Homo sapiens: one gene and its partners. The protein of the gene in region 3 purifies or fractionates together with the protein of the main gene of each other region. This does not show direct contact. Each region holds a gene or a part of one and is shown on either strand. Other genes may lie near its edges.

Region 1 (3,655 bases), on a different chromosome or scaffold from region 3:
TTGCCATGGACAAGATACTTAACATCTCCAAGCCTTAATTTTCTTATCTGTAAAGTAGAGCTAATAAAATCTTATTATAGGGTTTTTGGAGAATTAATAGAGACCGTGCATATAAAGTAGGTACCACAGTTCCTGGCCTGGCACATGGTAAGTACTCAACCAATGGTAACCATCACCATTATTATTATTATTATTATTATTGAAGGTTTTAAAGTAGAATAGTGACCCAGTATCTTGTTTTTTGATGGCTAATTCTGGCCATATTGTGTGCAACAAATTATTGGAGGGCAAGAAGCTTAAAGCAGGTTGTCTAATTAGAAGATTAATGGAGTAGTCCAAGTGAGGGATGACCAAGGCATGAAAAACTAGATACGACACAAATTCCTACTAATATTAGAAGGTAAGTATATTGGATGAGTGATTGAGTATGGAAGTGAAATAGGTGAGCAACAGTTTTTTAGGAAACAATAATCAGAATAATTTTGCTTTAGGGCTAGATTAAATTGGGCAATTGTAGTTAGATGCAAAGATTGGAATGATATGTAAAAGACTGAGAATGGTTAAATTGAGAAGAACCTTGAAAATAAGATCCAAAGTTTTCTTTTTCTTTATTCTTTAGTCATTAAGAAACTACCCCAAGTTTTTGAGTAGGTTAATTTACTACTTTGTTCAGTCAAAGAGGAAGAAGAGATTTTTCTAGTAAATGATAAGAACTTGAACTAGTATTGCAACAGTGGAGATTTAAGAAAATTGAATTTGAAGAATCAATAGGACTTAGAGTTCAGAAAGAGAACAATGACATTAAGTGTGAGTGATAGAGAATGGTGATACCTTAACAGGTGTAAGCCAGGAAGGGGAGCCAATTTTGAGGGAAAGGTATATTTAAAAACCACCACAAATTAAAAGAGACCCAATGGATACCTTGAAATTTTGAAGACAATGCTGTTGGATTTATTGAATCTTTCCTTAAAGCATGTGGCCAATCCATACTTCTACTCCTGGCAAGCAAATGGTTATATCATTCTTCATGATGAGGCTTTTTTTTTTTTTTTTTTTTAACCCTCAAGACAGGATCTTGCTCTGTCACCCAGGCTGTAGTGCAGCGCCATGATCATAGCTCACTGCAGGTTCAAACTTCTGGGCTCAAGCGATCCCCCAACTCAGCCTCCCAAGTAGCTGGGACTACAGGCACACACCACCATGCCTGGCTAATTTTGTTTATTTTTTATGGAGACAGAGGTCTCACTATGTTGCCCAGATTGGTCTCAAATTCCTGGGCTCCAGTGACTGTCCTGCCTTGGCCTCCCAAAGTGCTGCAGTTACAGGTGTGAGCCACCACGCCCAGCCATGATCAGCCTTTTGATGTCTCCTTTTGTCAAAAGAAAATTGTCCTTGTGTTGGTATAAAGACATATGCTACAGGAGCAGCATTCTGAAGACTTCAATTTCAACTATGGCTCTACTTCTTACTAGTGAAACCCCTGGAGAAGCAACTTAATGTCTCTGAACCTGTTATCTATCATTTGTGAAATGGGAGATAAAACTTGCCTGACCCTAACCCCAGCACTTTGGGAGGTGGAGGCGGGCGGATCACTTGAGGTCATATGTTCGAGACCAGCCTGGCCAACATGGTGAAACCCCGTCTCTATTAAAAATATACTAATTAGCCGGGTGTGATGGTGGGCGCCTGTAATCCCAGCTACTCGAGAGGCTGAGGTAGGGAGAATCGCTTGAACCTGGGAGGCAGGGGTTGCCATGAGCTGAGATCTCACCATTGCACTCCAACTGGGGCAACAGAGCGAGACTCTGTGGAAAAAAAAAAAACAAAAACTTGCCTGACCAAACTCAAAGGATGTCCCTGGGAATCATGTAGGATTATGTATGTGAAAGTACTTGGTCAACTATGAATAAAACACTATAAATATATTGTCATTGCTACATAAATTAGTGTCGTTAAACAAGTATTTTGGAAACTATAATCATTAATTCTGTAAACATTTCTTAATACCTATGTTTTTCCTGTTTGTTTTTTTTTTTTTTTTTTTTGGTTTTGGTTTTTTTTTGAGATGGAGTCTCACTCTGTTGCCCTGGCTGGAGTACAGTGGCATGATCTCGGCTCACTGCAACCTCTGCCTCCCAGGTTCAAGCAACTCTCCTGCCTCAGCCTCCCAAGTAGCTGGGATTATAGGCATCTGCCACCACGCCCCGCTAATTTTTGTATTTTTAGTAGAGACGGGATTTCGCCATGTTGGCCAGGCTGTTCTCAAACTCCTGACCTCAAGCGATATACCCACCTTGACCTCCCAAAGTACTGGGATTACAGGCATGAGCCACTGCACCTGGCCAGTTCTTAAGTTTTAGATAGGTTTTGATAATGGTGGAACTTAGAATGGATAAGACTTGTGGGCCAGAAACTTGAGCCTATGATGACTAGTTTTCTTTTGAGAGAAAGTCTCACTCTCGCCCAGGCGGGAGTACAGTGGCCCAATCCCGGCTTACTACAACCTCTGCTTCCAAGGTTCAAGCAATTCTCGTGCCTCAGCCTCCCCAGTAGTTAGGATTATAGGAGCCCGACACCATGCCCAGCTAATTTTTGTATTTTTAGTACAGATGGGTTTCACCATGTTGGCCAGGCTGGTCTGAAACTCCTGACCTCAGGTAATCCACCCGCCTTGGCCTCCCAAAATGCTAGGATTACAGATTTAAGCCACGGCACCCAGCCTATGATTAGTTTAATAGATAGCAGGGACAAGGGTAAACTAGCCAGAAGGCATGAATCTCAAAGGAGGAGGCATTTTTTTTCCCTTAGTGGAGAGATGATGTTGGAAGTGCTAATGCGGAGCTAAGAGAATGCTGAAGCCTCCACTGAGATTAGTGGAATGCGGAAAAATGAGCACCATCCACTTTGAAAAAAGAATTTGATAAGTGTTGTCCTTCAGGAGACCCAAGATGTAATTAAACTAGAGAGATGAAGACAGTATTCTGTGTAGAGCTAAAGAAGAGAGAGGCCAAGCGCGGTGGCTCACGCCTGTAATCCCAGCACTTTGGGAGGCTGAGGTGGGTGGATCACCTGAGGTCAGGAGTTCAAGACCAGCCTGACCAACATGGAGAAACCCAGTCTCTACTAAAAATACAAAATTAGCCAGGCGTGGTGGTGCATGCCTGTAATCCCAGCTACTTGGGAGGCTGAGGCAGGAGAATCACTTGAACCTGGGAGGCAGACGTTGCGGTGAGCTGAGATTGCACCATCGCACGCCAGCCTGGGCAACAAGAGCAAAACTCCGTCTCAGAAGAAAAAAAAAAAAAAAAAAAAAACCAGTCTGGCCAACATAGTGAAACCCCATCTCTACTAAAACTACAAAAAATTGGCTGGGCGTGGTGGCTCACGCCTGTAATCCCAGCACTTTGGAAGGCCGAGGCAGGCGGATCACGAGGTTAAGGGTTCGAGTCCAGCCTGGCCAACATGGTGAAACCCCGTCTCTACTAAAAATACAAAGATTAGCCGGGCATGGTGGTGCACGCCTGTAATCCCAGCTGCTCAGGAGGCTGAGGCAGGAGAATCGCTTGAACCTGGGAGGCAGAGGTTGCAGTGAGCTCATGTTGCGCCACTGCATTCTAGCCTGGGCAACAGAGCAAGACTGCATCTGAAAAAAAAA
Region 2 (3,655 bases), on a different chromosome or scaffold from region 3:
TTTATTCTCAATAATGTTACGTTTTAAACATAATCCAAATCTTAGAAATTTATTCTTAGATTTAGCAATGAGACTCTAAGTAATTATCTGGCAAATAGCATTAGCACAAAGGCTCAAGCCTCTTACCATCAAATCCATCTTCTTCTGACCCTAGTTCATCATCTGAGCAGATGTTGAGGACATTTACCAGCATCTCAGTCACTAAAGAGAGAAAGCAAAGAAAGAAAAGTCAGGGTTTTCTGTTATAACCTTAACTATTACTCTGGCATTGTTAATGAGCAAACTTAGCAATAACATTTCTTATTTAGTTTGTATATAGAAGCAGTTTCAGTAAACATCCAGATCATAAAAGACAGCCTTTGTGATTCTATGCAGACTTTATGAAACTATTAGCTGATGCTTATGATATCTAATGGTAACATTTACTAGCTCTAGGTCAATAGACAATGACAAATCAAATATGTGGATGTGAATATACTACAAATCAATGAAAGAGAAAATAGTTTTTTTGAATTTTTATTAGTCACACAATGATAAGGCTTAATCTAGATCAGATTACAAACTTCTGTTCAGTAGGGACTAAGAATGATGATTTTTCTTATATTTTTAATCACCTAGAGAACTTCACGCCATTATAGGCATGTGGTTTTGTGTTTAATACAAACTGTTGATTGATAAACTAATATATTTGAAGTATTTTTCAGAATACTAATTTTAAAAATGTATTGACAGAAATATCATTAAATTTGATTTTCAAAAATGCTTAAAAAATTAAACAGTTGCAGTTTAATCAGAAATTTACTTAATAGATTACAATAGGATTACATAAAAGTGTTGTACAGAGGAAATTAGTACTGCATTATTTTTATACTATAAACCATGCTATTTACATTTAATATTTTTTGAAATTAGATTGGATTCTACCATGCATGTGAAAAGAAGCCTGTCTACTGCTTCTTTGAGAGCTACTTTTTAAAGTAATATGCTATTTAAAAAAATGTCCTTCTAGAATTGAAGATGAATGATAGAGAGTCAAACTTCAATAGAGCCAACACTGATCCAGAGTTTCAGTTTAATTATCAAAACTGGATTTTGTGTACCAATAGATTAATATGTTAATTTCTAATAAATGTCCCAAATTTTAATAATTAATAGAAACAACCCAAATAAAGGATGTTCAAAAGGTGCCCCATAGTTGTCAGCATCCACACTGCTTCTGTTTCCAGCGAAGCCAACAGATGACACTACTCCAATTTGATCAGTGCAAGAAAGTTGCAATATGGAGTAGTATTGGGAATATTTATCAGAGATTATTAAAAATTTACTTTTGATTATTTTGATATTCAAAGGGAAGGCTTCTTTGCCAACAACTCATAACTTGACTGGTTTAATCATTTTAGGGCATTTAAAGGGAAAACAACCATTAGGGTTTCAGAAAAATATTTAGCTTTTCTCTGATACTCCTCATAGAACATCATTACTCTGATACTTATAGGAACATTTATTTTTCTTACAATGCCCATTCACCTTCTCATGGAAAGTATGAGAAGATACATGAGAATCAATCCGTGTATCACTGTTAGGCCTCCTGAATGAAAAACAATTGGTGCAGACATTTCCCCAAAATTTTTGTTGGGGTTTAAGTCAACATATGAAAGCAAAACAAAGGAGGAAAGAAGGAAGGTAGGAAGAAAGTTAACAAATAACTTTCTAAAATGTAAATTTGTCTCCTGTTCTGTACCTTATAATGCGCTAATGCCTACATTATTGATGAACTACTTTGCTGTTGTACATGTTGTTCTTCAAAATATTGTAGCCATTAAGCACTATCGTACAATAATTTATTAACATCAGAAATGTAAGGAGAGCATGGCTATCCTAATCTTTTAATTTGGCAGATAATTTGTAAAATTAAATAGTCCTTTGGGATTATAGTACAAATGGGTAAGGAAAAAGGGTAGACATTACTTGAAACCAGGTAAACCTGTATTTCCATTATTTTTTAAAGCGTTATATTATTCTAATAAGATTGTAAAAATTTCCTAAATATTCCTGTGTTTTGTTTTTTTTTTTGCTTCCCCCTCATTCACCAATTGTGTCCTGTTAATAGGATACAGAGTGACACACTGCCACTTCCAAATCACATCTTTCATTGTACAACTTGTGAATTTTATTGGCTGGGCCAAAGTTCTTCTCTTTCTGAGTGTTTAATCTCCTTTCCTTCCTTCCTAAACTATTTTAAGAAGAACATCTCAGGATTCCACAACATACCTTTTTCCCCAACAAATGGAAGGGACCAAGTAAAAACATCCATGAAATTTGGAAGCCAGTATGGATGAGGAGAACAGTTGAATTGCCTGATATTCATAACATTGTTCTCATACTTCAATACTGCAGCTAAAAATAACCAAAAGAGGATGTTAGGAACACAGAACATATTTCTGCTTCTATGTATGGCTTTAGCTCATCAAGAAAATTCAACCATTTGACTGAAGTTCCAAAACATCCAGGCTCACACCTTAGGCATCCCAGAATGCTTATACAACTTATGGACTTAAACCTTACTCAGGGTAATATATAACTGCACAATATATGAATAATTAATATGTAATTGTGTAACAAATTGGAAAATATTTACACAAAATAGTTAATCCAATGTCTGTCAGGAACTGATTCAAGCTCCCCTTTCAGCCAAGAATACTTTGGTCTTAAAATTTGATATCTGATGACACTAATAAAAGTGGCACAGCTAAGTTTGACATAATAATCTCCTCAAATATTTGAATGAATTTATTTTTAAAAAGTAAAACTTCAATAGAACTCCCAACAGTTGTACAAAATAGTTTAAGTTAGATTGCTTTAATTTTTACTTTATTTTTTAAATTAATATAATAATTGTACATAATTATGGGGTGCATAGTGATGTTTTGACACATATAATGCACAGTAATCAGATCAGGGTAATTAGCTATACATTAAATACCATATCAAACATTTATCATTTAGTTGTATTTGGAACATTCAATATTCTCCTTCCAGCTATTTGAAATTATAATCTATTATCGTTAACTATAGTTACCCTATAGTAGACTGCTTTCTTGACTTAATAAAATAAAATGTTTGGATTGAATCCCACATAAAATAATGTGCTTCTATCTGACTCTATCCTTGATTTCTGAAAAAGATGTCCATCCATGACTCAGGAAGACAAATCTGCATGCTTCATGTCTCTGTGAGTACTTTCAATAAAGGAAAAGTCACCTGTTTTAATGAGGTCACCTATTCTATGGATAGACAATTTGAAGTTGCAGGAAATTCTCAGGTTGCATTTAAACCTGCCTTTACCAGTCACTGATCATGGTTTTGCTATGCATTTCATATTTAATATTTAATGTCATTCTGCTTCTGAATGACAGCCTTTTAAATATTAAATATGATACTCAAGCATACCTTCTTAGGCTTTGGCAAGATTTCATTTTTATTATCTATTCAGGGCATAATTTGTATTACATTAGAAGACAGTAACCAACAGATTTTATATGATATCATATGATCTTTTCTTGCTTATGTTATGGGGTTGAAAATACAGAAAAAGTAATCATTTCTTTACTTTTTTGTTTTTACTCAGAATGGATGCTCAGGAGCTGGAGACACA
Region 3 (3,655 bases):
CTCGACTGCCCAAGGCTAACCAGATGGGGGAGGCAGAGAGGCCAAGTCGCCTGCCTAAGGCTAGTCAGACGGGGTATTCAGGCCTTGGCCTCCCCCTCTGCCTGCAGTGCTGCGTTACATAGCCTCATCTGTGTCAGCTGCCGAATGACCCACAGCTGCACTAAGCACTGAGCGATATCCCTTTTTCTTTTTGAGACAGGATCTTGAAGGTCTGTGGCCCAGGCTGAAATGCTGTGGCATGATCATGGCTCACTGAAGCCTCAACTTCCTGGGCTCAAATGATCCTCCCACTTCAGCCTTCCAAGTAGCTGGGACCACCAGCACGCACCACTGTGGGCGGCAAGTCACCCAGGTGCCGAGGCAAGAGACCGAGGGCACGAGCTGTTCCAGTGTAATAAAATATATAAAATAAGAATAGTTATACTAGATCTAGATCACAGACATGATTATATATGAATATCATTAATTAATTTGTAGCAATTACTCTTTATTCCAATATTATAATAATCCTCGCTCTACAATCATAACCTAGGAAAAACCAGGTCATACAGAGACAGGAGCTGGGGGGACATGGTGAGAAGTGACCAGAAGACAAGAGTGTGAGCCTTTTGTTATGCCCAGACAGGGCCACCAGAGGGCTCCTTGGTCTAGTGGTAACGCCAGCGTCTGGTAGGACGCCCGTTGCCAAGCAGACCATGGTCTAGCAGTAGCGTCAGTGTCAAGGAAAAACACCCACTACTTAGCAGACCAGGAAAGGGAGTCTCCCTTTCCCCAGGGGAGTTTAGAGAAAACTCTGCTCCTCCACCTCTTGTGGAGGGCCTGACATCAGTCAGGCTTGCCCGCAGTTATCCAGAGGCCTAATCGTCTCCCTGTGATGCTGTGCTTCAGTGGTCACGCTCCTAGTCCACCTTCATGTTCCATCCTGTACACCTGGCTCTGCCTTTTAGATAGCAGTAGCAAATTAGTGAAAGTACTAAAAGTCTCTGATATGCTGAAATAACGGCGTAAGCTGTCTCTCTGTCTCCTCTCTCTCTGCCTTGGCTGCCAGGCAGGGAAGGGCCCCCTGTCCAGTGGACACATGACCCACATGACCTCACCTATCATTGGAGATGGCTCACACTCCTAACCCTGCCCCTTTGTCTTGTATCCAATAAATATCAGTGCAGCCTGGCATTTGGGGCCACTACCGGTCTCCACGGCTTGGTGGTAGTGGTCCCCCGGGCCCAGCTGTCTTTTATCTCTTTGCCTTGTGTCTTTATTTCTACGCTCTCTCATCTCCGCACATGGGGAGAAAACCCACCGACCCTGTGGGGCTGGACCCTACACACCACCACACCCACCTAATTTTGAAATTTTTTGTAGAGACACGGTTTTGCCATGTTGCCCAGGCTGGTCTCGAACTCTCAGGCTCAAGTTATTCTCCCACTTCACCCTCCCAAAGCGCTGGGATTACAGCAGCCATGAACCACTGTGCCGGCCATTTTCTTCCATTTTTAGAGAAGGGTCTCACTCTGTAGCCCAGGAAGGAGCGCAGTGGCTATTCGTGGATGTGATCATAGCAAACTACAGTCCTAACCTCCCAGGCCCAAGTGATCCTCGGACCTCACTGAGTAGCTGGAACCACAGATCCCACCTATGGGACCATATATTCCCACATCACCATATCTGGCTTTTTTTTACTCTAACCTACTTGAGTATCAGAGGGCCCGACCCCCTCATGCCTCTGGTTTTCCAGATGTTTCCTACTGCTTTCATTTTTATTCATTTATTTATTTTGAGATGGATTCTCACTCTTGTCGCCCAGGCTGGAGTGCAGTGGCACAATTTTGGCTCACTACAACCTCTACCTCCCAGGTTCAAGTGATTCTCCTGCCCCAGCCTCCCCAAGTAGCTGGCACTACAGGCACCCATCACCACGCCTAGCTAATTTTTGTATTTTTAGTAGAGATGGGCTTTCATCATGTTGGCCAGGCTGGTCTTGAACTCCTGACCTCAAGTGATCCACCTGCCTCGGCCTCCAAAGTGCCGGGATTACAGGCGTGAATCACTACACTTGGCCTCATTTTTATTCTTTAGATGAACCTTTGAATAATCTGCTCATATTCCCAAAAGATCTTTTGTGTTTTGACTTGGTGTTGACTGATTTTACAGAAGTTAACGTATTTACACTATTGAAATTTTCTAGTCTAAAACAAGACTTATTTCATCTTCCTCAAAGTATAGTTTCTTCATTTAGAAATATTAGGCCAGACGCAGTGGCTCACGCCTGTAATCCCAGCACCTTGGGAGGCCGATGCGGGCGGATCACGAGGTCAGGAAATTAAGACCATTCTGGTTAACATAGTGAAACCCCATCTCTACTTAAAAAAAAAAAAAATACAAAAAATTAGCCAGGCGTGGTGGCAGGCACCTGTAGTCCCAGCTATGCGGGAGGCTGAGACAGGAGAATGGCATGAACCCGGGAGGCGGAGCTTGCAGTGAGCAGAGATGCACCATTGCAGTCCAGCCTGGGTGGCGACAGAGCAAGACTCCATCTCAAAAAAAAAAAGAAATATTAATCTTGGGCCAGGTGCGGTGGCTCACGCCTGTAATCCCAGCACCTTGGGAGGCTGAAGCAGGCAGATTGCTTGGCCTCTGGAGTTCGAGACCAGCCTGGGCAACATGACAAAACCGCATCTCTACAAAAACTACAAAAAATAGCTGGGGGTGGTGGCGTGCACTGTGGCCCCAGCTACTCAGGGAGCTGAGGTGGGAGAATCGTTTGAGCCCAGAACGTCAAGAGTGCAATGAGCCAAGATGGTGCCACTGCACTCCAGCCTGGGTGAGACCATCTCAGAAACAAAACAGAAAGAATAAATGTGACTCTTCTCAAGGTTCTTGGTACATATTGTGTGTACTTCTATTGCTGCACAACAAATCACCACCAACTTCAGGGCTGAAACCAGCACATCCACTTATCATCTTACTGCATTCGTCGTCAGGGGTGCAGGTGCAGCGTGGCTGGGACGCAGGCTGAATTCCAGGGGCCGGCTGCACTGCATTCTCATGAGGAGCTGGAGGACCCTCTTCTAAGCCCATTCTGGTTGGAGGCAGAATTTATTCCCGGTTCAAGGAATGAAGTTCCCGTTTTCTCGCTGCCCTAAAAAGCCTCTGACACTTTTACTGTCTGGCTTCCCTGATCAGGTCGGGCCCTAAAGAGCCTCTGACACTTTTACTGTCTGGCTTCCCTGATCAGGTCGGGCCCTAAAGAGCCTCTGACACTTTTACTGTCTGGCTTCCCTGATCAGGTCGGGCCCTAAAGAGCCTCTGACACTTTTACTGTCTGGCTTCCCTGATCAGGTCGGGCCCATCCAGGATCATCTCGCATTTTGATGACGTCAAACTCAATGGATGAGTGAGCTAATCGCAGGAGAGACACACCTCCCTCTTCCTCATTCCACCCACACTCGAGGGGAGGGTTACACATGGCTGTTTCCCAGGGGCAGGGATCGTGTGGGCTGTCTTGAGTCCTGCCACCTTGTTACCAAACCGCCTTCCAGGAAGATGTGTGCCTCCACAGCAACGTGTCCGAGCCCCTGATCCAGAGTCAACTGATATTCTTTGGCCTCTCATAGATGTAAATATTTTTTTGAGCTTATCATTTGTTCTACAATTG

Evidence for each region.
Region 1: the proteins of SPATA33 (region 3) and PPP3CB purify together in Homo sapiens (affinity purification with mass spectrometry; one large-scale study listed by BioGRID and IntAct). This does not show direct contact.
Region 2: the proteins of SPATA33 (region 3) and PPP3CA purify together in Homo sapiens (affinity purification with mass spectrometry; one large-scale study listed by BioGRID and IntAct). This does not show direct contact.

What each region holds. Positions count from the first base shown.
Region 1 is NC_000010.11:73,485,955-73,489,609, reverse strand, and holds part of PPP3CB (serine/threonine-protein phosphatase 2B catalytic subunit beta isoform), read left to right. Parts: intron 1-3,655. UniProt on the Homo sapiens protein: Calcium-dependent, calmodulin-stimulated protein phosphatase which plays an essential role in the transduction of intracellular Ca(2+)-mediated signals.
Region 2 is NC_000004.12:101,060,961-101,064,615, forward strand, and holds part of PPP3CA (protein phosphatase 3 catalytic subunit alpha), read right to left. Parts: intron 2,398-3,655; coding exon 2,272-2,397; intron 202-2,271; coding exon 127-201; intron 1-126. UniProt on the Homo sapiens protein: Calcium-dependent, calmodulin-stimulated protein phosphatase which plays an essential role in the transduction of intracellular Ca(2+)-mediated signals. Many of the substrates contain a PxIxIT motif and/or a LxVP motif.
Region 3 is NC_000016.10:89,664,203-89,667,857, reverse strand, and holds part of SPATA33 (spermatogenesis-associated protein 33), read right to left. Parts: intron 1-3,655. UniProt on the Homo sapiens protein: Plays an important role in sperm motility and male fertility. Required for sperm midpiece flexibility and for the localization of sperm calcineurin to the mitochondria. Promotes mitophagy as well as acts as an autophagy mediator in male germline cells.